Linked DNA regions of Homo sapiens: all the other regions are linked to region 1. Evidence: fine-mapped expression QTL. A gene starts in region 1. Each other region holds a variant in brackets. All regions are shown on one strand. Distances are between the middles of the regions.

Region 1 (5,000 bases):
TCAGAGTAGTAATAATCACTGTGTGTTTATCACCAACTTTGTTCTAGACATTGTGTTAAATACTTTACAAACAACACTTCTAATTCTGCAAGTTAGAAAGTTATCTTCATTTAGGAATGAAGTAATCAAAGTTAAGTAAATCTATTTACAAATCCAGTAAGTGGCTAATCTGCTGTACTTGATTCCTGCGCCCACAATTTCAATTACTCCAAATTTCCTCTCTGGAATATGATTTACTATATTCCAGGAGAATTACAGTATTTGTGAACAGTACATCATCAATTGATGAAAATTTTCCTGTAATCTTTTTCAATATATGTAGAGATTTCCATTTTCTTTTGAGTTTCTTTAAGGTAAACCACCTTGCCCTTTGGATTAGTCAGCTTTCTCTTGTTTCATTTTATTTATCCAGTTATTTTTGGAGAGTCTCGCTCTATTGCTCAGGCTGGAGTGCTGTGGCGCCTTGATGGCTCACATCCTCAACCTCCTGGGCTCAATCAATCCTCCCACCTCAGCCTCTCCAAGTAGCTGAGACTACAGGAGTGCATAATCACACCTGGCAAACTTAAAAAAATTTTTTTTTTGTAGATAAGGGGTTTCGCCATGTTGCCCACGCCGGTCTCAAACTCCTGGGCTTGAGCAATCCGTCCACCTCAGCATCCCAAAATGCTGGGACTTCATTTTAGAACTGAAATTCTTAGAAATGCTGGAAGACCTCAGTTGCCACTCAATTGTATTGGAAGAAGCTCCTAGTTCCAGCTTTGCACTGAATTTGGAACACACACTAAGAAGGAAGGATGGACTATTTGATGTCATACATAACTAATTTACATGGCTGGAAGGAACAGTCCAGGTTAAATGATATATCAAATTGTTAAAACTAATATAACGACAGCAAGTGCAGCTGGAAAAAGAGGAAAGAACTCTCTAAACTTCATTGCATTGGATCTAGGGTAAACGACATGTTTCTAGTCCTGGCTACCTTGAATAAGTCATTTCATCTCCCTGGACTTCATCTATTAAATAAGATAGCTACATGAAATAATCTTTAAGTTGTTTAAATCTTTAAATAACCTTTAAAGTCTGTAATTCCATTTTCAAACATAGGTGTGTGGGTATATACCTCTCTTCTCTGCCCCACTAAAATCCTAGATAGGAAGATGCTAGTTAAGGTTGGAGATGAAGGTTTGAAAGCCCGAGTTCCAACTCTACCCTCCCTTACATCTGTTATTGCCTTACACACCTGGATTTTACACCCTTTTTTAGGTCAACTCCAGCTGTCTTACCACATCTGTTCAAGCCATATTGTCCTCTCACTCTTTGTCCTATGTCCTCACGTTCTTTACATCTTGATGGGGGACAGCTGTAGTGTGTTTAGAGATATATTCTAGGATCAGCCTACTAGATTTCACTGCTTGGCTCTGCACTTTCCATTTGTCTTTCTTTGGGCCTGTTCCTTAACCTCTCCAAGCCTCAGTGTCCTCATTTATAAAAAGAGGCTAGTAAGATGGCTGACCTCATACGAATGGAGATTAAAAGAGTTGCCTCATCTAAAGGGTTTTAACGGTGTCTTGTACAGTGAAACCCAGTAAATGTTACATCATCATCATCATCTTTTCCCTCGCCCCAGGACACGACTTCCTATTCTTGCTCCCACTCTCCCATTTCTTTATTCGCTGGCCGCTCCATCCGACCCATACCTATCTTAACTCACTGGTTGAACTAAAAAGCTCTCACTCACTTCAGGCCTACGAATCAACTGACAAGAGCGGGGAGAAACTCAAAAACGGAGATGCCAGGTGTCTCCAGAATCTGTCATCCAAAAAAAAAAAAACCAAACCAAAACAAAAAAAAACCCGACGATCAGCTAGTACTATATGAAAAACAAGTTTTGAGGTCCTTCTCCCTGATGCCAAATATACCCACAGCCCTCCTCACACACCCTTTCCCTTCCTCCCTGTGTGCCAAGTTCGCCCCCGGAGTCGTCGTTTCCTTCTTTCCCGGCAGCTGCAGCGACGACCCACGGCCTGAGAGAGCCGCTGCAGCACAGGTCCCGTGCGCCCTGCCGCACAGCCTCGCCACAACCACCACCGCCGCCGCCGCCGCCGCCGCCGCCCGCAACCCGCCTCTCCCTACGGGTCCCGACTGGGCACCACTTCCGGTCCGACACGGCCACGTGTTACATCTAAATGGCACCGTCCCCCGAGTGCGCCGACCTTGTGCTACAGCCAGAACAGCTCCGGGAAACAAGGGCAGCGGGAGAAACGGCCCGGAAAGGGACGAAGAGGCTTCCAGCTTTCGCCAAGTCGCGGCTCCCAGTTTTTCCCTGGGCCTCCTTCCTTTCCCCTCTAGGGAATCCGGCATCTAGTACCGCTGGCACTGCTTGCTGCTTAGCCCACGCCTCTCATTTGAAAATATATTTTGTTTTACCGTGCCTATCACCTGCCGTCCTCTCTCTAGTAACCTTAGTAACGCCTCCTCGGAGGATCCTCTCAGAGCAGCTCATCAGCGCTTCAGATCAGCCTCTCCCTCCTTCCCCCAGTAAAACAGTTCTCATAATTAGAACAAAAATATCTCTCCATCGTTTCGCCACCCACACAATAGATACCATTCCAAAAGCAGTGCTGATGGCAGAAGAGCTCATCGAATTTGTGAGGAAAGAAAGAATAGGAGGAGAGATTTCTCAGGGTTGAGGATTCTCTGCCGACAAGCGACCTGGCACATGCGAAAAGGGATCCAAAATAGAATCTTAAAAAGAAGAAGAAAAAAGGCAGGAAAAGTTGGATTATTTTAAGCGCCACTAGGTTCTTCCTGTGCTTTGCGTTTTCTACATCACGACGCCCCACTCTTTCCACTCTAGTTGTTTGGTTCATGTCTTGTCTCTCGCTGGCATTAGCAGCTATTCATTTTTTGCTTCCTCCTCAGTACCCAAAACGGTGCCTTGGAAATCACAAGTGCTAATTAAATATTTGTTGAATTGAACTGGCACGCTTCTGGCGTTTACAGTGGGCCCTTTTTAGAGAAAACCTTGGCACTTAATGCACAGTCATTTTACATCTTTTGCCCTAAACAGTAGATAACGATATCCTTATCAGTTCAAGTCTCTAACCCTGACAATAAATTATAGATACATTCTGCTTTATCCATTGCACTGAATGTGATCTTAAAAGGCTATAAGATAAATTAAATTATTGTAAATTAACTTATTCCAAAATGCAATCAGATTATACTTCAATAAAAACTTTTACTAAAAAAAGTGAAAGCAATAGGAAGCCTTACAATTTGACGTTATAGTATATGGAATTATTTTGTCAAGCAGTTTCTTTTTTGGTAAATATATTAAATATATAATTATTTTATTGTTAATAAAACTAAACAGACCTATACCTCATATCCAATTTCCTTTCTATCCATATTTGACATTTATTAGCATTTTTCTACCATCCCTAGCATCTTCTTGTTTGTTGCTTCATTTTACTCTTCCAACAACCCTGTGCTGCTGTGTTATTAGCCTCATTTTACACATAAGGAAGAGAGGCACAGAACCTAAAGCCACAAACCTGGTGAGGGTCGAGAACTGGGTAGTACTTGTGTCTGTCTCTCTATAAGACCCAGTTTCTCTCTCTCTCTTTCTCTCTTTTCTCTCTCTCTCTCTGTCTCTCTCTCCCCCACTTCATGGATTGTGTGGGAAGTAGCTTCTGGTTCCAACATTTCTAAGAATTTCAGATCTGTTGCTACCAGTCCATTCAGGCAAAGATTTCCATTTTTTACTTTGAGACAGCAGTTACTGAAAAAGAGTAAATAGAAAATATATATTAGGCATAGATTGCATGATCTGAACTAGAAATAATACAGGATAGAAAACCCACCTGCTTAGGAAATCTCAAGTTAACAATTATAGCTCAACAACAATAAAAAACACAAACATTTATTCAGTGCCTACTCTGGGCAGGACACTGCCCTAGACATCAGGGTTACAGGTATGTAACAGCAACTCCTTATCCTTGAAGGTTGACTAGTAAGACAGACAATGTGTGGAATAACTACAACAATATATTCTATCATATACCAAGTGTCTAGTACATGCATGAACCTGTTGTTCCTAATTTATAAAATATGTTATTTCAATGGATATGAAAATTTAAATGTGCACCAATGCTATGTAACTCAAAGCAACAAAATACTATATTAAGTATGTGGTCAGGATGAGGGAAGTTGGGTGATGATGGTGGTGATAATACCAAGTAATAATTCTGATATAAACTATGACTGTGCATTCTTTTTTATTCAAGACCGAGTCTCACTCTGTCACCCAGGCTGGAGTGTAGTGGCGTGATCTCAGCTCACTCCAACCCCTGCCTCCTGGGTTCGAGCAATTCTCCTGTCTCAGCCTCCCGAGTAGCTGGGACTAGAGGCGCACACTACGCCCGGCTAATTTTTGTATTTTTTTACTAGAGATGGGGTTTCACCATGTTGGTCAGGCTGGTCTCGAACTCCTGACCTCAGGTGATCCACCCACCTTGGTCTCCCAAAGTGCTGGACTTACAGGCGTAAGCCACCGCGCCCAACAAATGTGCATTCTTTCTTTTCTTTTCTTTTTTTTTTTTTTGAGACAGGGTCTCACTTCATCACCCAGGCTGAAGTATAGTGGTGCCATCTCAGCTCAACCTCCACCTCCCGGGTTCAAGCCATTCTCCTGCTTCAGCCTTCCCAGTAGCTGGGACTACAGGTGTGAGCCACCATGCCTGGCTAATTTTTGTATTTTTAGTAGAGGCAGGGTTTCACCATGTTGGCCAGGCTGGTCTCGAACTCCTGACCTCAAGTGATCCCGCCTTGGCCTCCTAAAGTGCTGGGATTACAGGGGTGAGCCACTGCGCCTGGCTGAATATGCATTCTTCTAATACTGTGTGTCTTTGAGAAGATTGCATTTTCCATGTTCTTTTTATAATATGATGCTGACACTTCTCTAACATAAGCTAATACCTATGGCCACAGCTTTG
Region 2 (5,000 bases), 32 kb after region 1:
TCCCTCCATTTTTTTTTTTTTTTTTTTTTTGCCATATCCACAATCTCATCTGCACTGAAAACTTGTTCAGGTAGATATTCTTTCTCCTCAATGATTTTTTTTTTTTTTTTTGAGATAGAGTCTTTCTGTGTCACCCAGGCTAGAGTGCCATGGCACGAGTTGGCTCACTGCAACCTCCGCCTCCTGGTTCGAGTGATTTTTTTGCCTCATCTTCTCAAGTAGCTGGGATTACAGGCACACACCACCATGCCTGGCTAATTTTTTTGTGTGTGCGTATTTTCAGTACAGTTGGGGTTTCACCATGTTGGGCAGGCTGGTCTCGAATTCCTGGCCTCATGTGATCTGCCTACATTGGCCTCCCAAAGTGCTGGAATTATAGGTGTGAGCCACTGCACTTAGCCCTCAATGATTTTCTTAACAGTGTCCAGGAATTTATCTGCTGCCTCTTGGTTGGTAAGGGCTGCTTATTCTCTTATATTGACATTTTTAAAGGCAAATCTCTTTCTAAAATTATCAAACCATACTTCGCTGGCATTAAATGCTCCAGCTTTAGTTCCTTCACCTTCCTTATGCTTTGTTATGTAAGGACTTTGTTTTTTCACTAATCATATTAGAGTCTATGGGTATGCCTTTCTTATAGCAGTCCTGCATCCACGTAAAAGCTGTATTTTCAATACAAGATTAAAGGGTATTTCAGCTTTTGATTCCAAAATGGTAATGTAGAAACAAGCTTGCTTCACTCTCCCCAACAGAAAACCAAAAACAAATATACAGCTCTGAGATCATAACCAGAAATATCCCAGAGCCAAAATATCAACATGAGAGAGTTTCTGGGGCCACAGCGAAGTTAAAAAAATAAAAATAAATAAACTTTAAGCAGATGGTAATATACTCAGACTTCCACATCTGCAGTACCCCTCCTTCCATTCTTCCCAGCACAAAACAGAAAGATATCCCCCTCAAAAAAGTGAAATTGAGGTGGACAACCAGTTTCTCCAACATTTTGGTTTCCCTGTCAGGAGACCTCTCCTTGCCTTAACCTATGGGAAGCATCATGAGCACCTGAAGGGAGAAATATTCCCGAGAACAGGCAGAGACAAAGAGGGGAGTTAAGACTGCCATTTACAGCCCTGGAAACTATGCTGTTTCACTCAGCCAAAGGAGGCACCAAAACAGAGCAGCTTTTCTGCATTGCCACATTGTAGGGGATTCATCCTACAAGTCCCCTGGGCACAAACCTCTAGACAGCCTTCCCAAATTACCAGTGCATCCCCTTTGGGACCTCCCCTATTTGGAAAGGACAGTGCTATAATCGTTTACTGGAGCCAAAGTGAACCTGGGCTTAAGGCACCACCTAGAGCCAAAAAGGAGGCTGTGACCTAGCAGTAAAGAAACTTCAAGCAAACATATCCAATAAAAACCAAAACAAGCCAGACAGAGGAGAAATACATAACCGATCTTCCAATGCAAAGACATAGATGTAGGTCCACAAGAAACAACAGCAAACAGAAACATGAACTCTCCAAATAGACAAAGCAAAGAAACCAGTAACTGACCCTAATGAGATGGTGATATGTGAGCTATCTGATGAATTCAAAATAGCAGTTTTAAGGAAATTCAGTGATCTCCAAGATGACACAGAAAGGCAATTCAGAAATTTATCAGAGGATTTTAACAAAGATATTGAAATAATTTTTTAAAAACAGAAATCTTGGAACTGAGAAATACATTTGTCATACTGAAAAATTCATTAGAGGCTTTCAACAGCAGAATAGATCAAGTCGAGGAAACACTCGGTGAACTTGAATACAGGCTATTTGAAAACACACAGACAAAGGAGAAAAAAGAATGAAAAGCAATGATTGCCTACAAGATACAGAAAACTACCTCAAAAGGCCAAATCTAAGAATTATTGGTGATGAAGGGGAAGTTGAACAATAGCAAAGGTTAGAAAGCTTATTCAAAGAAATAATAACAGAAACTTTCCAAACTTGAGAAAGACATAAATATTCAGATACAGGAAGCTCAGGGAATACAGAACAGGTTTGACCCAGATAAAACTACCCCAAGGCACATAATAATCAAACTCTCAAATGTCAAGGACAACAGAAAATTCTAAAAGCAGCAAAAGAAAAGCAAATAACATATAAAGGAGCTCCAGTTTGTCTGGCAACAGACTTCTCAGTGAAAACCATACAGGCCAAGAGGGAGTGAAACGACATTTTCAAAGTGCTAAAAGAAAAAAAAACTGCTATCCAAGAGTACCGTATTCAGCAAAGTTATTCTTCAAATATGAAAAAGAGAGGGAAAAAAAGAGTTTTTGTTTGGGATGATGAAAAAGTTCTAAAAATAAATAATAACATTTTTGCAACATTGTTCATGCATATGATGCCACTGAAGTGAATAGTTAATAATTGTTAAAATTAGAATTTTATATTATGAATATTATACCACAAAAAAACTAACAAAATAAAAAACGAATGAAGGAGAGATAAAGACCTTTCTAGACAAACGAAAGCTGAGAAAATTCACTACCACCAGACCTGTCTCTTAAAAAATGCTAAAGGGAGTTTTTCAATCTGAAAAAAAAGTTAACATGCAGAAACAACAACATTCGAAGGTATAAAACCCGCTGGTAAAATTAAATACATGGACAAACCCAGAATACTCTAATACTGTAATTGTGGTGTGCAATCTACTCATAACTGT[A/G]GTACGAAGCCCCAAAGACAAATCTATATAAAAAAGCTACTGCAACCTGTTAAGAGATAGGTAATATAAAAATGTGTAAATGAGATAACTAAAAGTCAAATGTGGAAGGGATGGAGTTAAAGCATAGTTTTTTTCATTTTTTTGTTTCTATTCTTTATGATCCAAGATAAGTTATGATCTCTTTAAAATAACTTTTTATATCTATATTTCTTGTAAGCCTCATGGTAACCACAATGCAAAAACCTGTAATAGATTCACTAAAAATAAAAAGCAACAAATTAAAACATACTACCAGAGAAAATCTCTTAACCACAAAGGAAGACAGTAAGAAAAGAAGCAAGGAGTTACAAAACAATCAGAAAATAAGCAACGAAATGACAATAGTAAGTCCTTGCTTATCAATAATAACACTGAATATAAATGGTCTCAATTCTCCAATTAAAAGGCATAGAACAGCAGAGTAGATTTTTTTTTAAAAAAGACCTAAATATGTACTGCCTACAAGAACCCACTTCACCTATAAAGACATATATAGACAGAATGGGAAGGGGTAAAAAAAGATGCTCCATGCAACTGGAAACCAAAAGAAGACCAGGAGGAGGTATACTTAGATAAAATAGACTACAAATCAAAGACTGTAAAAAGGGACAAAGAAGGTCACTATATAATTATAAAGGGGTCAATCCAGCAAGAGGATATAACAATTACAAATATATATGCAACCCAACGCTGGAGCTCCCAAGTATATAAAGCAAACATTAATAGATCTCAAGGGAGAGACAGACTGAAATACAATAGTAACAAGGGACTTTAATACTTCACTCTCAGTAATGAATGGATCTTCCAGACAGAAAACTAACAAAGAAATAGCAGAGTTAAACTACACACAAGACCTAATAGGTCTAACTGACATTCACAGAATATGTTACCTACCTGCTGTGGAATACACATTCTTTTCATTAGCACACAGAACATTCTTAAGAATAGACCATATCTTAGGCCATAAAACAAGTCTGAACAAATGCAAAAAAGTAGAAATCATATCAAGTATCTTTTCTGACCACAATGGAATAAAACCAGAAATCAACAATAAGAGGAAACTCATTCAGGAGCATGTTGTTTAATTTCTATGTGTTTGTATAGTTTCTGAATTAAATTATGGCCAATGGATCAATGAAGAAATTAAGAAGGAAATTTAAACACTTCTTGAAACAAATGAAAATGGAAATACAACATGCCAAAATCTATGGGATATGGAAAAAGCAGTACTAAAGGGAAAGCTTATAACAACAAACATTTATATTTTAAAAAGTAGACGTCCAATAAATAACTTAATGATGCGGCTCAAGGAACCAGAAAAGCAAGAATAAACCAAACCCAAGATTAGTAGCAGGAAAGAAATAATAAATATCAGAACAGAAATAAATGACATTGAGACTAAAAACAGTACAGAAGATCAATGAAACAAAAAGTTGGGTTTTTTTGAAAAGACAAACAAAATCAATAAACCTTTGGCTAGACTAAAAAAAAAAGAGAGAGAGAAGACCAGATTAAATGACATTAGAAACAAAAAAAGAGACATAACCACTAGGACCACAGAAATACAATGAATCATTATGTAACATTATGAACAACTATACACCAAGAAATTGGAAAACCTAGAAGAAATGGTTAAAATCCTGAACACATACAACCTACCAAGATTAAACCATGAAAATAATAGAAAACTCAGTAAACCAATAATGTGTAACAAGACTGAAGCTGTAATAAAATGTCTCCCATAAAAGAAAAGCCCAGGACTTGATGGTTTTACTGCTGAATTCTACCAAACATTTAGAAAAGAACTAATACCAATTTTACTCAAACTCTTCCAAAAAAATTGAAGATAAGGAAATACTTCTAAACTTATTCTACAAAGCCACCATTACCCTGATACTAAAACCAGACAAGGATACAACAACAAAAAAAAAACTACAGGCCAATATCACTGATGAACATAGGTGCAAAAATTCTCAACAAAATAGTAGCAAACTGAATTTGACAACACATTAAAAAGATCATTCATTATGATCAAGTGGGATTCATCCCAGGGATGGAAGGATGGTTCAACATATGCAAATCCATAAACGGGATACATCACATTAACAGAAGCAAAAACTAAAACCATATGATTATTTAAATAGATGCCAAAAAAAGCATTCAATGAAATTCACCATCCCTTTATGATAAAAGTCCTCATCAAATTAGCTATAGAAAAAACATACCTCAAAATAATAAAGACCATATATGAC
Region 3 (5,000 bases), 23 kb after region 1:
GTCATTTTACAGAAGAGGAAAATGAAGGCAAGGGAAGTTCAAGTTCAACAACTTGCCCAAAATCATACAGCTTTAAAGCTGCAAAGGCCAAAACTAAAGCTCAGTCTCCTATTTTTAATACCATGCTTCCTGGATGAAGGACCTCGAACCCTGGGCTAAAGATTTGAGATGAGCAAGTCAAAACCACAGTAAGTTACCACCTCACACATATTAAAATGGTTATTATCAAAAAGACAAGAGATAGCAAGTGTTAGAAAAAGTGTAGAGAAAAGGGAACCTTCACACACTGCTGATGGGAATGTAAATTTGTATAACCATTATGGAAAGCAGTATGGAGATTCCTCAAAAACTTAAAAATAGAACTACCATATGATCCACCAATTCCTCTTTTGGGTATATACCCAAAGGAAATGAAATTAGCACCTCATAGTGCTAAATCTGCACTCCCATGTTCACTGCAGCATTATTCACAAAATAGCCAAGATATGGAAACAACCTAACTGTCCATCAGTGGATGAACGGATAAAGAAAGTGTGGTACAATTCTTGTGTATACAATGAAGTATTATTCAACCTTAAAAAAAAAAGGAGATATCCCCATTTGTGACACTTATAAACCTACAGACACTACGCTCAGTGAAATAAGCCAGACACAGAAAGAAAAATATGGCATGATCTCACTTGTATGTAGGATATTTAAAAAGTCCAATACATAGAAATAGAGAGTAGAACGGTCGTTACTAGGGGCAGAGATTGGGAGAAAATGGAGACATGTAGGTCAAAGGGTATAAACTTGCTGTTAGGTAGGAGGAATAAGTCTAGAGATCTAAAGGACTGCATGAGGACTAGAGTTTAATAATATTGTTTTGTATGCTAAAAATTTGTTAATATAGATTTTAGAAGCTTCTGCCACAAATACACACAAAAAGGTAACCATGCAAGGTGGTGGATGTGTAAATTTGCCTGACTGCAGTAATCATTTCACTAGCTCTATGTATATCAAAACACCATGTTGTATACTTTAAATATATGTAATCATAATAAATAAATAAGTAAATAAACAAAAGAGATGAGTTGTACCAGGTAACAAGGACTCATAATAAATCACTGCCTAGGGAAGCACCATGGTGAAGGGAGTGTTTGAGGAAGGACAATGATGTGTAAACTGGACAGGAACAGTCTGAAGACTGGATATTGTTAGAGCATCAGCAGCAGCCTATGGACATGTGGTTAATTAGAGCCTGGACCAGGTTGCTGGCTGTGAAATTAGACAGGAAAGAACCACAGAGAAAAATGACATTCCTCACTGTCACATCACACTCTCTCCCATTTCCTTTTCAGGTTCTTTAGAACTTCTTTCATTTACCTTAAAGGCTTATTTGCAGACACAGCTCAGCACAAACTCTAACTAGCCTGTAAATCATATATATATATATTTTGGCTAGGCCATGCTTCTACATTCTTAAAAGCCAATGCTACAGTGGGAATGAAAAGGAATCAGACCCAGTATAAATTGTGAATGGCTCTGAACTTAAGGCTTTCTACAAATGATGAAGTATTTAAATAGGAAGTTAAGAAAACCGAGAGGCCCAAGAGTGTCTCATCCAGTAGTACCATTCTTTCTTCCCTACACCTCCTGGCACCTTGGATACTCCCTCAAGCCTTCAGTTTCCTTTGCTCCCTATGGGAAAGCCACTGGATTCATTCAGGACAAGATGCGAGGCATCACACTCAGACTATGAAGACTGAAAGGAAACTTGGAGTAACCCAGCCTAAGCACTCAGGAACCCAGAAACACAAATGGCTGAAGGTGAAAACAAGACTGTAACCCACATTTCCCAATGCCCTCTGGGAGCACGATTTTTCTCCTTTCCTTTTCCTGAAATGCAATCTGAAACAAAATTCTAAAATAAAAATATTTTTTTCTGCTCAAAACTGTGCACATGCG[T/C]ATTCTCTCTCTCTCTCTCTCTCTAGAATAGAGTCAATAGGAGATAAAACCTTCAGAATTCAAATGTCACCTTAAATACAGTGATTAAATAGCATTCTCTAAGCAGAATTACTTTAAAAGGGAGAAAGATGAAACATTTTTATTTTCTTTATGTTAGATCTGCCATCAAAAGTAATTGATAGACGTGTGCTGTTTTTTTTTTAGCATATCATTGTTACTTCCCTCAAAACTGTTATGTTACTGCTTGTACTCATTTTATTCTCCTTTCAGGACTAAATCTGCTGAAAGAAAAAGACTACATCTTGTTTATCTTTGCATTCCTCATGGGTCCTTGTATTGTTTTTTGCACATTGTTCTATATAAGGTTTTGGCACAGCGCTTACTCTTCTTAAAAATTGGTGGAATAACAGGGCATGAAATGACTTTCATCCAATATTTTTGCAACTTTTACCTTCACTACTTAAAAGAAAAAAGTCAAATAGCAAAATGAATATGCCATGTCAATTGGAGAATTTAACAATCTGTGTTTTAAAAGAAAACAGCTTAGGAAGCTCTGGTCTCAGACATGCTATTCTGAAATCAAAATCACATAGATGAGGCTGAAGAGTTGAATCGTCTTCTGAATCAAATTAAAAATTCAACCCATAGTAATTTTGGCAGAATGAAAACGTCAAATTGCATTTCAGCCAATTTCTCTTCCTTTTCTATAGTCGATGAGTTGTTTTGGGGCACAAGAAAAAATTTCAAGGATTGTGTTTATTTACAATATTTTCAGGAAAAAAAATGCCTGCTTGCTTTCCTGTAAAAGTGAGAGGAGCAGAGAAGCTTCCTAGACTGTTCTCAGATGCTTCAGCTAAAAAGTAAAATAACAGTGCCAATAATTGAAAATAAGGAGAAAAATTATGCCAAACACTTGGCACCAGCTGCAGCAATTAAGTAAGCACCTGCTTTATGCTTCATCTGCCACCATCCCCTCCCTCTTCATTTAGGCTGGTTTCTGGTTTTTTTGAGAATATATGCACCTCAGTGTACAAGCTCGCAGAGCTGTCTTTTTCCTTCTTTTTATTTCATTCCTTTCCCTTTGGCTATCATTAACTCAGGCATGACAGGAAGATCCAGACAAGGACAAGGTAGTAAAGACACCAATATTTCTAAAATCTAGGGCTTTAGAGAATGTTGGGGCAGATGTAACCATAGTAATCACTGGTATGAGAGCACTGATGTCCTTACTAAACAGCAGGTCACACCATCCCAAGGAGACCTTGCAAATGAAGATGCAGATTAGATGTCTGGAAGCAAGATTTTTATTAGCTTAGTCCTGAACCTTAGCTATGCAACAAAAGCCAGCTCTGCAGAGATTTAGGCTCTCAAAGAGACACCATCAAGGAGTTCGAGACTGTTAGGAGCATAGGGCTTAGCATGAGCATCAAATAAGGTATAAAAGAGGTGCTTTGAAAAGTTGAAAGAATTATGCAAATGTAAGGCAGGTATTAATATTAAAGATGTTTATCATAACCCATCTAAGAGAAACAAAATCATAAGTGTATTCATCCACTGGAAATGAATTTGCACTTTTTGGAATCCTGGGCTACCATTTCCTCTTTTCCCTTTTATCCTGTCTATAAAAGCTGGCTAATGATGCACCTACCTCAGAGGCAACTGTGAGGCTTAAATGAGATTATGTGCATGAAGCACCTTGCTCCATGCCTTGTATAGAAAAGATACTTAATAAATGTGAATTGCATTTCAAGGGGAAAATCAAGTACATTATCCTGAGAATTCTTCATACTTGCAGTTCATCAATAGATGCTTCACATTAAATTACATGTTTCCAGGAGAGAAAAATGGAGTGGTCACCCTCAACAGTACACAATCAGTGGAGCTGGCTGCTTCTCACATGGAGAAAACAGATGTGAAACAAAGGCATCCATCCTTCAATTTGTAGGTGTCAAAGTAGCAATTCCCCTCTTCTCATACTGGTAACTACTGCTTTGTTCTTCTGCAGAAAACATTTTAAAGCTGCTTTTGAATTCCCTCTATCATAGCCAGATACCAGCAAAAGAGAGACTCTGAAAACAGAGCAAGAGCTTCTAGGTACAGACCAGAAGCTCCTTGAGGTTAGGGACCATTCTACCTGGTTCCCTGCCACACTCCAGCACTTTCAAGAGTGCCCAGCAGATGACAAGCCCTTAGTATGCACTTACTGAATCATTTCAGTACATCAGAAATTTGAGGAAGTAAATGAGACACAAAATTAAAGGTGCTTTATTTCATCAATTTGATTGGCATGTCCTGCTTCATCTACCTTTGGTGCAAAATAATGTCTCATTTGTTTTAGTGCTTGATGTGGTTTGGATGTGTCCCCACCAAAATCTCATCTTGAATTGTAGCTCCCAAAATTTCCAGGTGTTGTGGAAGGGACCCTGTGGGAGACAATTAAATCATGGGGGCGATTTCCCCCATACTGTTCTCATGGTAGTGAATAAGTGCCACAAGATCTGACGGTTTTGTAAGGGGAAACCCCTTTCACTTGGCTCTCATTCTGTGTCTTGCCTGCTGCCATGTAAGACGTGCCTTTTGCCTTCCACCATGATTGTGAGGGCTCCCTAGACATGTGGAACTATGAGTCCATTAAACCTCTTTTTCTTTATAAATTACCCAGTCTCGGGTATGTCTTTATCAGTAGCGTGAAAACAGACTAATATGGTGCTCAAACCATAATAACTGAAGTTCATCTTATTGATCAGGGGAACCTATCCTACTCCTATAGGGTACTTTTCCCATGAAGTACCCTGATAGAAGTACCAGGAGCAGATAGTCCAAAGTGATTAACTTATTCATTGTTAATTAGTTAATATTACCTCATAGAAGAAACCAGAAAGTCTGGTGAGTCCACCAAAGGGCTCTGTTGTCTGCTGTTTGTGTTGCTTTACATCAGTGCAAAAACCATAAAGTTCAGTTATCTAGAATGAGACCCTATTTGTTTTAATATTACTACAGTATCAAGACAGATAACTATTGACAGTCCTAAAAGATTCTTAGAGATTTTTAGG
Region 4 (5,000 bases), 39 kb after region 1:
AGTACTTCCAGCATCACTAGTGGAACTTTGTATGGGTCCTATGGTGTTATTCAAGGTTGATAGCACTGTACTAAACATGATGAAAAAATGCGCACGAATCTCAGGAAATCATTTTTACTGCGATATGCAATTTACTAGAGAAGCGAACGGCTCACATGGAGATGATAGTGTCACACGGTGTTTTAAGTGAATACTCCCAACATTCGGGCTCACTGCAATAGCAGCAGAAGTTGGCTACAAGACTATTACAGTAGCATAGTATTACTACGGTTCATTTTATGCAATTATGACTTAATACCACATCTTTATGTTTTTGGGTGTTGTTTGTTTGTTTTGAAACAGGGTCTCGTTCTGTCGCCTAGGGTGGAATGCAGTGGTGCGATCATGGCTCACTGTAGCCTTGAACTCCTGGGTTCAAGCAATCCTCCTGTCTCAGCCTCCCAAGCAGCTAGGACCACAGGCATGTGCCACCATGCTTGGCTGCATTTCTGTTGACTGCAAATGGCACCATGTATGGTCCATAAGTGTTTGTGTAAGATTTGATAAATTTTAACTTTGTATAATAGATTTGTGTATGTTTTGCACTAGTATATGATAAAATAGATTCATATCTACATATATTTTATGCATTCATAAGCTCATCACACTATAATACCTGCCCCCTCATGGACTCTTATGACTTTGTGGCTCTGCCAATAATTATTTAAACCCTTTTCAAGTTTTGGCCCTATTCTACCTTGATAATTCCCTTCGTTCTGATGATTGTACTCTAGGAACAATAGCTCCCACCCAAATCACTGTCTGGAGTATAACTTCCAATTCAGAATTCCATTCCAGAAGATAAAGGGTCCTAGGACTTATTGTGGCCAGAGTTGTGGAAACTATCACAACTGTCACTATTTGGGGAGGTTTTACTTACCGTGAAATCACACTACAAGAACTTACCATCTCCTTTTAAATAATCTTAGAAAAAACTGGCACAAGTCTATCAGCACTAGAAAAGTCTTTATACTCACTAGCAGAAATGGTTTTTGATAATAGATGAGTTCTTGATTACCTCCACCTGAACAAGGAGGAGTCTGTGCTGTCATCAACAAAATCTGTTGTCTGGAGAAGTGGAAACTAATGTCCCAGTAAATTTTCAAACAAGCCAAATGGTTATACACACTTTCCCAAAGTAACCAAGACTGGGCTTCTCCCATTCCTTGGACCTTTTTTCCTTGTCATTTTTCTTTTAATATTTGCTCCCTGCATTTTTAATGCTCTCATTAAGTTTGTATCTTCCAGAATACAACGATTCCACCTACAGATGACTATGCAGTCTCAATACTGGCCTGCAACAGCAACTTCCATTTATACGGGGCCTCTTGATAGAATCCAGTCCCCACCCCTCGTGACTGAGTTTTTCATGACCCTTCATTTCCTTTATGACACAGAGCAAAAAAGAGAAAAACGCAACTTATCCCCTCAAAGCCCCCTTTCAGGAGGAAGTAGCCAGACAGACTCATCACCCCTCTTCACTGGACCATTTTCCCTTTCTTGAGACCCCAGGAGGCAGCAGGTAGACATGAACATGGGGGAATATAAATATAAAGGGTCAAAGATATGACCAAGATATTTGTCAGGGAGCAAATGAGGAGAGGAAAATCACCTGGTGACCATCGAGCAGTCTCCAGAGACAAAAACTCCTTATCTGAGGAATTTAGAAGTAATTAAACTTCCCTAGTATCTAAAGTCAGCATCTAGATCTCTTTCAAAAATGTCATAACTAGAATTTCTATACACCTCCAGAATGCATGCATGTCAAAACTCATTGTGCAACCCTTGCTGACAGTAAGGCACCAAAATGTCTACAGATGTAATCATGTATCATGACCTACCTGGCTAATATGGTCAAAATTACCCTTAAGCTCCCGCCTTAAGGTCCATAAATGCTCCTAAGGAAAATCCACCACTGTGTGCTCAGTCCTCTCTCACTGAGGTGCCCCGCTGCACCCTTTTGCAGCATTCTTTCTTTCTAAAACTTTCCTTTTTCAAATCTATACTGTTTTTGGTAAATTCTTCTTACCAACCCACACACTGACCACTTCCCAATACAGGGGCTCTGACACTGCCTGGCAAATGTGTTCAAACAACAAGGAAAGCAAAGGAAGTAGACTGAACATGTGTATTAGTCTGCTCAGGTCGCCATAACGAAATATCACAGACTGGGTGGCATAAACAACAGAAATATATTTTCTCACTGTTCTGGAGACTGGAAGTCCAGGATCAACGTGTTGGCAGGGTTGGTTTTTCCTGAGGTCTCTTGCAGACAGTCACTCTCTGTCTGTGTCCCCACATGGCCTTTCCCCTCTGTGCATGTGCACCTCTGGTGTCTCTTCCATTTTTCTTTTCTTTTCTTTCTTCTTCTTTTTTTTTTTTTTTTTTTTTTAGACAAGGTCTGGCTCTGTTGCCCAGGCTGCAGTGCAGAGGCACATCTTGGCTCACTGCAATCTCCGCCACCCCCAGGCTCAAGCCATCCACCCACCTCAGCCTCCCAAGTAGCTGGACTACAGGTGCACACCACCATGCCAGGCTAATTTTTGT[AT/A]TTTTTTATAGAGATGGGGTTTCACTATGTTGCCCAACTGGCCTCAAACTCATGAGCTCAAGCCATCTGCTTGCCTTGGCATCCCAAAGTGCTGGGATTACAGGTGTGAGCCACCTCGCCGGGCCCCCTTTTTCCTAAGGACAGAAATCCTACTGCATTAGGGCTCCACCCTTTTTTACCTCATTTGACCTTAATTACTTTCTAAAGGCGCTATCGCCAAATATAGTCACATTGGAGGTTAAGGCTTCAACATGAATTTTGGGGGGATAAAATTCAGTCCTTGACAACATTTATTTAGCATTTTCTTTGTACTAAGAGATTTCAAATACAGAACCATCTTTAATGCTCACTCCAACCTGAGGAGATGGGGACCATTTTACAGACATGGTTAGGGAGATTAAGTAACCTGCTAAAGATCACCACTACCCAGGTGGCAAGTGGCAAGACTGTCGTCTGACTCTGGGGAGACTATATGATAGCCAGAGCTAAAAGTAGGTCATTCGTGGAGTGGTTGGGAAGGTTTCATAACCTCTACAACTTCCTCATATTTACTGTTTGTCATACAGTAGTTCCCTGTTATCTGCAGTTTCACTTTTTGAAGTTTCAGTTACCCTCGGTGAACTGAGGTCCAAAAATATTAAATGGAAAGTTCTAAAAAATAAATAATTTGTAAGTTTTAAATTAAGCACCATTCTGAGTAGCATGATGAAATCTTGCACCCTCCCACTCCACCCTCGGATGTGAATAATCCTTTTATCCAGTGTATCCACAATGTATACGCTACCAATCCGTTAGTCACTTAGTAGCCGTCTCAGTTATCAGATCAAAAAGAGTATGCTGCCCTGGTCCCAGCTACTCAGGAGGCTGAGGCTGGAGGATCCCTTGAGCCTAGGAGTTTGAGGCTGCAATCAGCTACCATCATGCCTGTGAATAGCTACTGCACTCCAGCCTGGGCAACATAGCAAGACCCTGTCTCAAAAACAAACGAACAAAAAATCAAAACTTAGTATAATATATACATAAACTGTAGTGTTGAAACTCTCCTTTGTCAGGTCTTGTCTTTTTACTCATATTCTTATTTTTTAAATATACTTGCTGCCATTAATTTGGAGTTTTCTATTTTAATTTATTTTAGACTGATTTACTGTCATGGAATTATTCTTCAACTTACTATTTTTTTTATGTAATTATAATGTCTGCAGTAATTTTGCAATATTATATCATCAATACCCATATAAGCACAATTAAATAGGGTTCAGTATTATCCATGGTTTCAGGCATCCACCGGGGTCTTGAACTACTATAGCCCTCTGACCCTTAAAATAAAATGGTCCTGTGGGATTGACTTCCAGGGCAGTAACATCTGGAAAAGCCATGGAGACCAAGTCCCAGGTACAGCGAGTGTTGTAAGAATGAGGATTTCAAGGACTGAGGAGAGTGGTGGAAACCAACCACCAAGCTACCCTAAACGCCTGGCAGCTGCAAGATGGAAGAAAAGAGGATGCAGGCAGCTGGCTCGTGACTGGGATTCATGAGAGAAAAGCCATACAGGTCCTGGTAGGCTGGGAGGGGCCACACTCATCCCCTCACTCCCTTCCTCATGCCCTCCCTCACTGCCTTATTCAATAGTTATTGAGCTCCTCCTGTGGCCAGCACTACCAGGTACTGGAGGATTTAGCACCCCTATCAAGGATTCCTTTCTTTATTCTCCCTAAAGGCCCCTTTCTGGGAACAACAACGTCTCCCTCTACTGCCCCTGCAAAAAACAAAATAAAATTGCCCTTAAGAAATGATCAATTAACTTTCACATTTTCTTGGGTTCAAATAATAGCTCTGCCTTTGGTGAAGTTTATGACCTATTTCTTTCTCCTCTTTACCCTCAGTTTCCTTATCGGGAAAAATGGACATATCAACAATATCAACCTCAGAGAAATGAACAACACATTGTAATATACATCGAAAGATTCTTAGCACAATGTTCAGCACCTAACCAAGGCCCAGTAAGGCAAGATACCTTTTACTTCTTGTACTTTTTTTCTTCTTTATTATTATTCTCCTTGTTCCCTGTTTTCTTCCTAAAAACTATGCCTCAAAACCCTTGGTCCTCTTTGTGAGAATTCAGAGGCAAAGGAGGGAGGAGGTTTCCCAGATCTCACTGAGGGAAGAGGCTGAGGTGGGAAGCTGCCCACCACCGTGGTCACCTGACATGCACAGGGAAGTCAGGGCCCTGGGAGGCTTTCTGGAGAGATCAAGGCAGAGTCGGGGCCCTTTAGGTTTAGTTCAAACCGTAGTCAGGATTCTGTGCTGTTGTTGCTGCTCCGCCAGCCTGCACATCACCCTCACCGCACTTGTTTTCTCTTGTTTAATTGCTCATCTCCTCCACTAGAAGGCAGGAACTCTGTGGGTTTAGCTT
Region 5 (5,000 bases), 46 kb after region 1:
CTGTGTCCATGTTCTCATGGTTCAGCTCCCACTTATAAGTGAGAACATGCAGTATTTGGTTTTCTGTTCCTGTGTTAGTTTGCTGAAGATAATGGCTTCCAGCTCCATCCATGTCCCTGCAAAGGGCATCTCATGTTCTTTTCACAGTGATCCTGTAAGAGAAACACTAGTATTATTTCCATGCTATATATGAGGAAACTGAGGCTGAGAGACAATGAAAACTTGCCCAAGGTCACTCAGCTGCTAAATAGCAAAGCCAAGACTTGAGTTGTAATCTTCACATTAGGCTGCATCCTAGTGTTTTGGTGTGACCCAAAGACTCCTCCAGGTATCCCCAGAGAGCCTCCAGAGCCAGAGCATGGTCAGCCTCAGTCGTTTCCTTGTTCTAAACATCATATAAGCAAACAATACCATGCAGACTTTTTTTTTTTTTTTTTTTGACAGAGTCTCTCTCTGTCACCCAGTCTGGAGTGCAGTAATGCAATCTCGACTCACTGCAGCCTCTGCCTCCCGGTTTCAAGTGATTCTCCTGCCTCGGCCTCCTGAGTAGCTGGGATAACAGGCGCCTGCCACCACACCTGGCTAATTTTTGTATTTTCAGTAGAGACGGGGTTTTGTCATGTTGGCCAGGCTGGTCTCGAACTCCTGACCTCAGGTGATCCGCTCACCTCAGCCTCTCAAAGTGCTGGATTACAAGTGTGAGCCACCGCGCCTGGCCCCATGCAAATACTTCACACAATATGTGCTTCACATAGACAAGAATTCAAGAACTGTCTATAAGTTTATATACATCAAAAATAAGTCACATGAAAAATATTTTTGGAAACAGACAGAAGTCAGTTTGAAGCCAAAATATATTGTCTTGGACGAGTCTAACCTCTGTAAGCTTCAGTGGGGATAATGCCTTGCTCACACGGCAGGTGAAATGATCAACAGAGACAATGTATGGGAAGCACCTGGCCTGCAGGGGGCCCAGCAAGCATGGGTTCCTTTGTCTTCTTTGCTGCACTGCTGGGAGCAATAGGGGCAGTGTTGAATGTGAGCCAGCAGTAGGCTGGTGCAGAAGCCTTGTGCTTCTCTGCTGTTAACACCCATTTCTGCCCTGGACCCTCAGGGCACTAATCCTATGGTCATAACCAGTTTCCTCATTGCTTTGCTATTTTCTGCGGTCACATTCCCAGCTTCTTGGGTCATCATTCCTACAGAAACCAATGGGTGTAACACAGGCCATAAGTCACGGGCAGCAATGGAAAGCTCTGAGTTCTTCCAGAACGACAGTATAAAGCCAAACAAAACAAAACAGATCCCTTCTAAAGGGATAAGACAAAAGCAAAAAGGCTGAAATCCAACATCATGAAGTTCAAGTTTCCAAAGCATGAACAGATTAGTTGCATGATTTTCCTCTTAACTTCAGAATCTTAAACCAAAAAACTAAAACAAAACAAAAGCAGTTAATAACTTCCTCGAAAGAATGAAGAAGTATCTTTAAAAAAAAAAAAAAAGGAACTGCAGACCAGCCTGGCCAACATAGTGAAACCCCGTCTCTACTAAAAATACTATATATATATATAATATATATATTAGCCAGGCATGGTGGTGGAGGCCTGTAGTCCTAGCTACTCGGGAGGCTAAGGCAGGAGAATCGCTTGAACCCAGGAGGCGGAGGTTGCAGTGAGTTGAAATCACACCACTGCACTCCAGCCTCGGTGACACAGTGAGACTCTGTCTCAAAAATAAAAATAAATAAATAAATAAATAAATAAAAACCTGCTAAGAACTATCTTGGGAGTGATTCAGCCATAAAGAAGAAGAGGAAGATAGAAGAGTAATCATATTTTCAACTTTATATTCCAATAACCATGCCCCGCTCTAGGGCAATACCTCTTAGAGCCACTGCTTTTCCTTAGTACCACCCCCAAATATATTTTCTGGCTAGATTATTTCCACCTTGCCCATGACTTAGAATTATCCTTTTTTTTTAATTCCCTAACAAACTTCTTTTCTTGAGTAGATTTCTATTCAAGTCTAGCCAGTAAAAAGGGTGGCCTTCCATGACCTTGCCTAAATTTTTGGTGCTTAGTTCTGATAAAATTCAAATATATTTCCAGAAAAAAATGCTAAGTCATTAAGATCATACCTTATTAAAAATATTCTGGGATAATTTTATTCTGCATTCTTTTTTTTTTCTTTTTTTTTTTTTTTTTTGAGATGGAGTCTCGCTCTCTGGCCCAGGCTGGAGTGCAGTGGCACGATCTCAGCTTACTGCAACCTCCGCCTCCCGGGTTCACGCCATTTTCCTGCCTCAGCCTCCTGAGTAGCTGGAACTACAGGCACCCGCCACCATGCCCAGCTAATTTTTTGTATTTTTAGTAGAGACGGGGTTTCACTGTGTTAGCCAGGATGGTCTCGATCTCCTGACCTTGTGATCC[G/A]CCTACCTCAGCCTCCCAAAGTGCTGGGATTACAGGCATGAGCCACCATGCCCGGCCTGATTCTGCATTCTTTTGGCTTAAACTTTACCATGTGCATTTTGGTTAACTGCAGTACATGTACCTAGCATGCCCCGAATTGGAAAACAAACTCTTTCTAAGCCTCTGTGTTTAAAAATTATTTCTCCTTTCTGGGGAGAGAAATTAGGAAGCTATAGAATGTTAGTGCTATAAAGATAAAGAAACTGAGGCCCAAGGAAATGAAATGCCTTGTTCAAGCCCACAGAGCCTTTCTACAGTTCTTCCCAGAGGATATCTGTCAATTTATTTTGGATTCCTGTATGAAGAGCATTCAGCTTCCCCGAGTTAATGGATTATTGACTGATGTTCAGAAAAATGCATAAAGAGGTTCGCAGTGTTTCCACTGTGAGAAACTCTTTTACTCCTTCTCAGTGGGGGTGCTAAGAGCATTTGGGGCAGGACAATTCTTCATGCAGAGGTCCTAAGAGTTTCAGGATGTTAGCATTTCCAGTCCAACAATGGTAAGTCTAGCATTTCCAGTCCACCTAATGGGAATTCTAGGATCACAACAAAGAGAATCCTCACTCTCCTCCCTACCCTGTCTTCCCCTGGGTCTTCTATAATACTCTCCTCAAAAATAATAATTCTTTTTTTTTTTTCAAAGTTTCTTGAGCATCCAGAAATAGCCACGAGTGATGTTTATTCATTCACTAGCTTCAGGCATATGGTGCAAGATGAAGCAGGAGGCAACTAGGCCCAGTGTTTTCAGAACTCCTCAGGACACCCAAACAGCTATTTGCTACTTACTTTGGGAGGTGCAAGAACCTGCTTAACACTTTCCTTGTCTTTATGGTAATCACTCCCCAGTAGGAGTGCTGGCAGGGGCTGCTTACATGACAGGATCTCCAGAGATTACCCAGCCCAAGAACTTCCTTTGAAAATCAGAGCCTAAATGTGAAGCGTTGAGCCCAAGGTCAAACAGCTCATCTATTGCAGAACCAGATCTTGGCATAGTCTTTCTTCTAGTCCCAGAGGCAGCCTTCCCTTATGCGACAGCTTTTCCAAGGGTTATGCTGGTTATGTAACTAGACTACTCAGGGTTCCAACACCAATCGCCTCATAGGAGTTCTGTACTCAGGCAGTTATTGCCTGCTCCTGTGTGAATAAGATCAGATTACCTTTGCTCCAGGAAATCACTCCGATCCAAGGAGATGGTGCTGTGGAGCGATTAAGAGCATGTGACACTAATGTCTGAATGCCTCACTTTCAAGCCAGCACAGCCTCTTATTCTTGGGCAAGCTGCCTAGCCTCTCCATGCCTCAGTTTGCTCATATGAAAAATGGGGGCAAATTAACCAAACTATGTTACAATAATTAAATGAGGTAATTATTCTAATGCACCTACCGCAGGGTCTGGCACATTATAAGGATGTGTTAAAGGTTGGTTATTGTTGTTGTCGTCATTGTCATTGTCATCATCATCATGAATTACATTGTTTTTCCTTTGCTGGGAATTGAACCAGGGAGAGAAAGCAGGGCTGGTTCATTTTCTCCCACCAGCATGAGCCAGAGGAGGCGCTTCCCTTGGGGACATAAGCAATAAACTCCAATCAATGGTTAATTCAGGTTCTGCTTGAGTTTAAAGGCAGGTATAGAAATGTATAAATTCAGCATACTTAACTTTGGTAATAAAAATTAAGAAAAACTCTATTTTTTAAGAGCAAAGTACCAGCCCACATCTCTAAACTAACTTTTCTCTTTTATAAGACCATTTTAACTGTTTCTGCTAGGTAATGATCATTTAATCAAGGGCATAAAAAGATAAATAAATTGTGGGTACTGCCTTCAAGGAGGCTTTCTTAAATATTTATTTTTTAATTGACAAATAATAAGTGTACATATGCATGGGGCACATAGCGATGTTTTGATACATCAGGGTAATCAGCATATCCATCATCTCAGATATTTATCATTTCTTTGTGTTGGGAACATTCAATATCCTCTTTCTAGCTATTTGAAACTCTATTATTGTTAACTATTGTCATTCTACAGTGGTATAGAACGCTAGAACTTATTCCTCCTATCTAGTTGTAATTTTATGTCCTTTAACAAAACTTTCTGTATGCCCTCCACCTCCCCCTACCCTTCCCAGCCTCTAGTATCCTCTGTTCTACTTTTTACTCCTATGAGATCAACTTTTTTAAGCTTCCACGTATGAATGAGAACATGTGGTGTTTAACTCTCTGTTTTTGGCTTATTTCCGTTAACATAACGTCCTCCAGTTCCAACATCCATGTTGCCATGAATGGCAGGATTTCACTGTTTTTTAATGGCTAAATAGTATTCCATGGTGTGTATATGCTACATTTTCTCTATCTATTCATCTGTTGTTGGACATCTAACTTGATTCCATATCTTGATTATTGCGAATAGTGCTGCAGTAAACATGGGAGTGCGGAGGTCTCTACAAGGAGGCTTTTAAAGGCAGAACTTGCCGCCTTTCTTCCCATTCGCTTGGGTGTCATTCCGTGACAGGTTTGGAATCTTGATAAAC

Direction of the effects. Positions count from the first base shown, and alleles are read on the strand shown. Sizes are in standard deviations (SD) of each study's normalised expression. Not every link is listed here.
In carriers of allele A in region 5, the expression in prostate of the gene that starts at base 2,160 in region 1 tends to be lower than with G alone (moderate effect, 0.45 SD a copy in GTEx).

The links. PIP is the estimated chance that this variant, and not a neighbour inherited with it, causes the effect. A credible set is the group of variants that fine-mapping cannot tell apart.
Region 2: its variant is the best candidate, but not a certain one, in a credible set for the expression of FRA10AC1 in sigmoid colon (GTEx, PIP 0.56).
Region 3: its variant is the best candidate, but not a certain one, in a credible set for the expression of FRA10AC1 in hippocampus (GTEx, PIP 0.73).
Region 4: its variant is the best candidate, but not a certain one, in a credible set for the expression of FRA10AC1 in prefrontal cortex (CommonMind, PIP 0.90).
Region 5: its variant is the best candidate, but not a certain one, in a credible set for the expression of FRA10AC1 in prostate (GTEx, PIP 0.79).

The regions. Positions count from the first base shown.
Region 1 is chr10:93,700,433-93,705,432 of GRCh38, forward strand. It overlaps FRA10AC1 (FRA10A associated CGG repeat 1), which reads right to left and starts at 2,160. Exons shown (of 14, transcript NM_145246.5): 1 at 1,943-2,160. RefSeq lists an enhancer at 2,149-2,448.
Region 2 is chr10:93,732,223-93,737,222 of GRCh38, forward strand. No RefSeq gene overlaps it. Among named protein-coding and RNA genes, the nearest start is that of LGI1, 23 kb to the right of the region's middle. The variant A/G (reference allele first, on the strand shown) is at 2,710.
Region 3 is chr10:93,723,016-93,728,015 of GRCh38, forward strand. No RefSeq gene overlaps it. Among named protein-coding and RNA genes, the nearest start is that of FRA10AC1, 23 kb to the left of the region's middle. The variant T/C (reference allele first, on the strand shown) is at 1,948.
Region 4 is chr10:93,739,734-93,744,733 of GRCh38, forward strand. No RefSeq gene overlaps it. Among named protein-coding and RNA genes, the nearest start is that of LGI1, 16 kb to the right of the region's middle. The variant AT/A (reference allele first, on the strand shown) is at 2,587.
Region 5 is chr10:93,745,956-93,750,955 of GRCh38, forward strand. It overlaps LOC101927013 (a long non-coding RNA gene), which reads right to left. Exons shown (of 3, transcript XR_246160.5): 2 at 3,852-4,029; 3 at 1-152. Among named protein-coding and RNA genes, the nearest start is that of LGI1, 9.5 kb to the right of the region's middle. RefSeq lists enhancers at 49-800, 3,147-4,129. The variant G/A (reference allele first, on the strand shown) is at 2,430.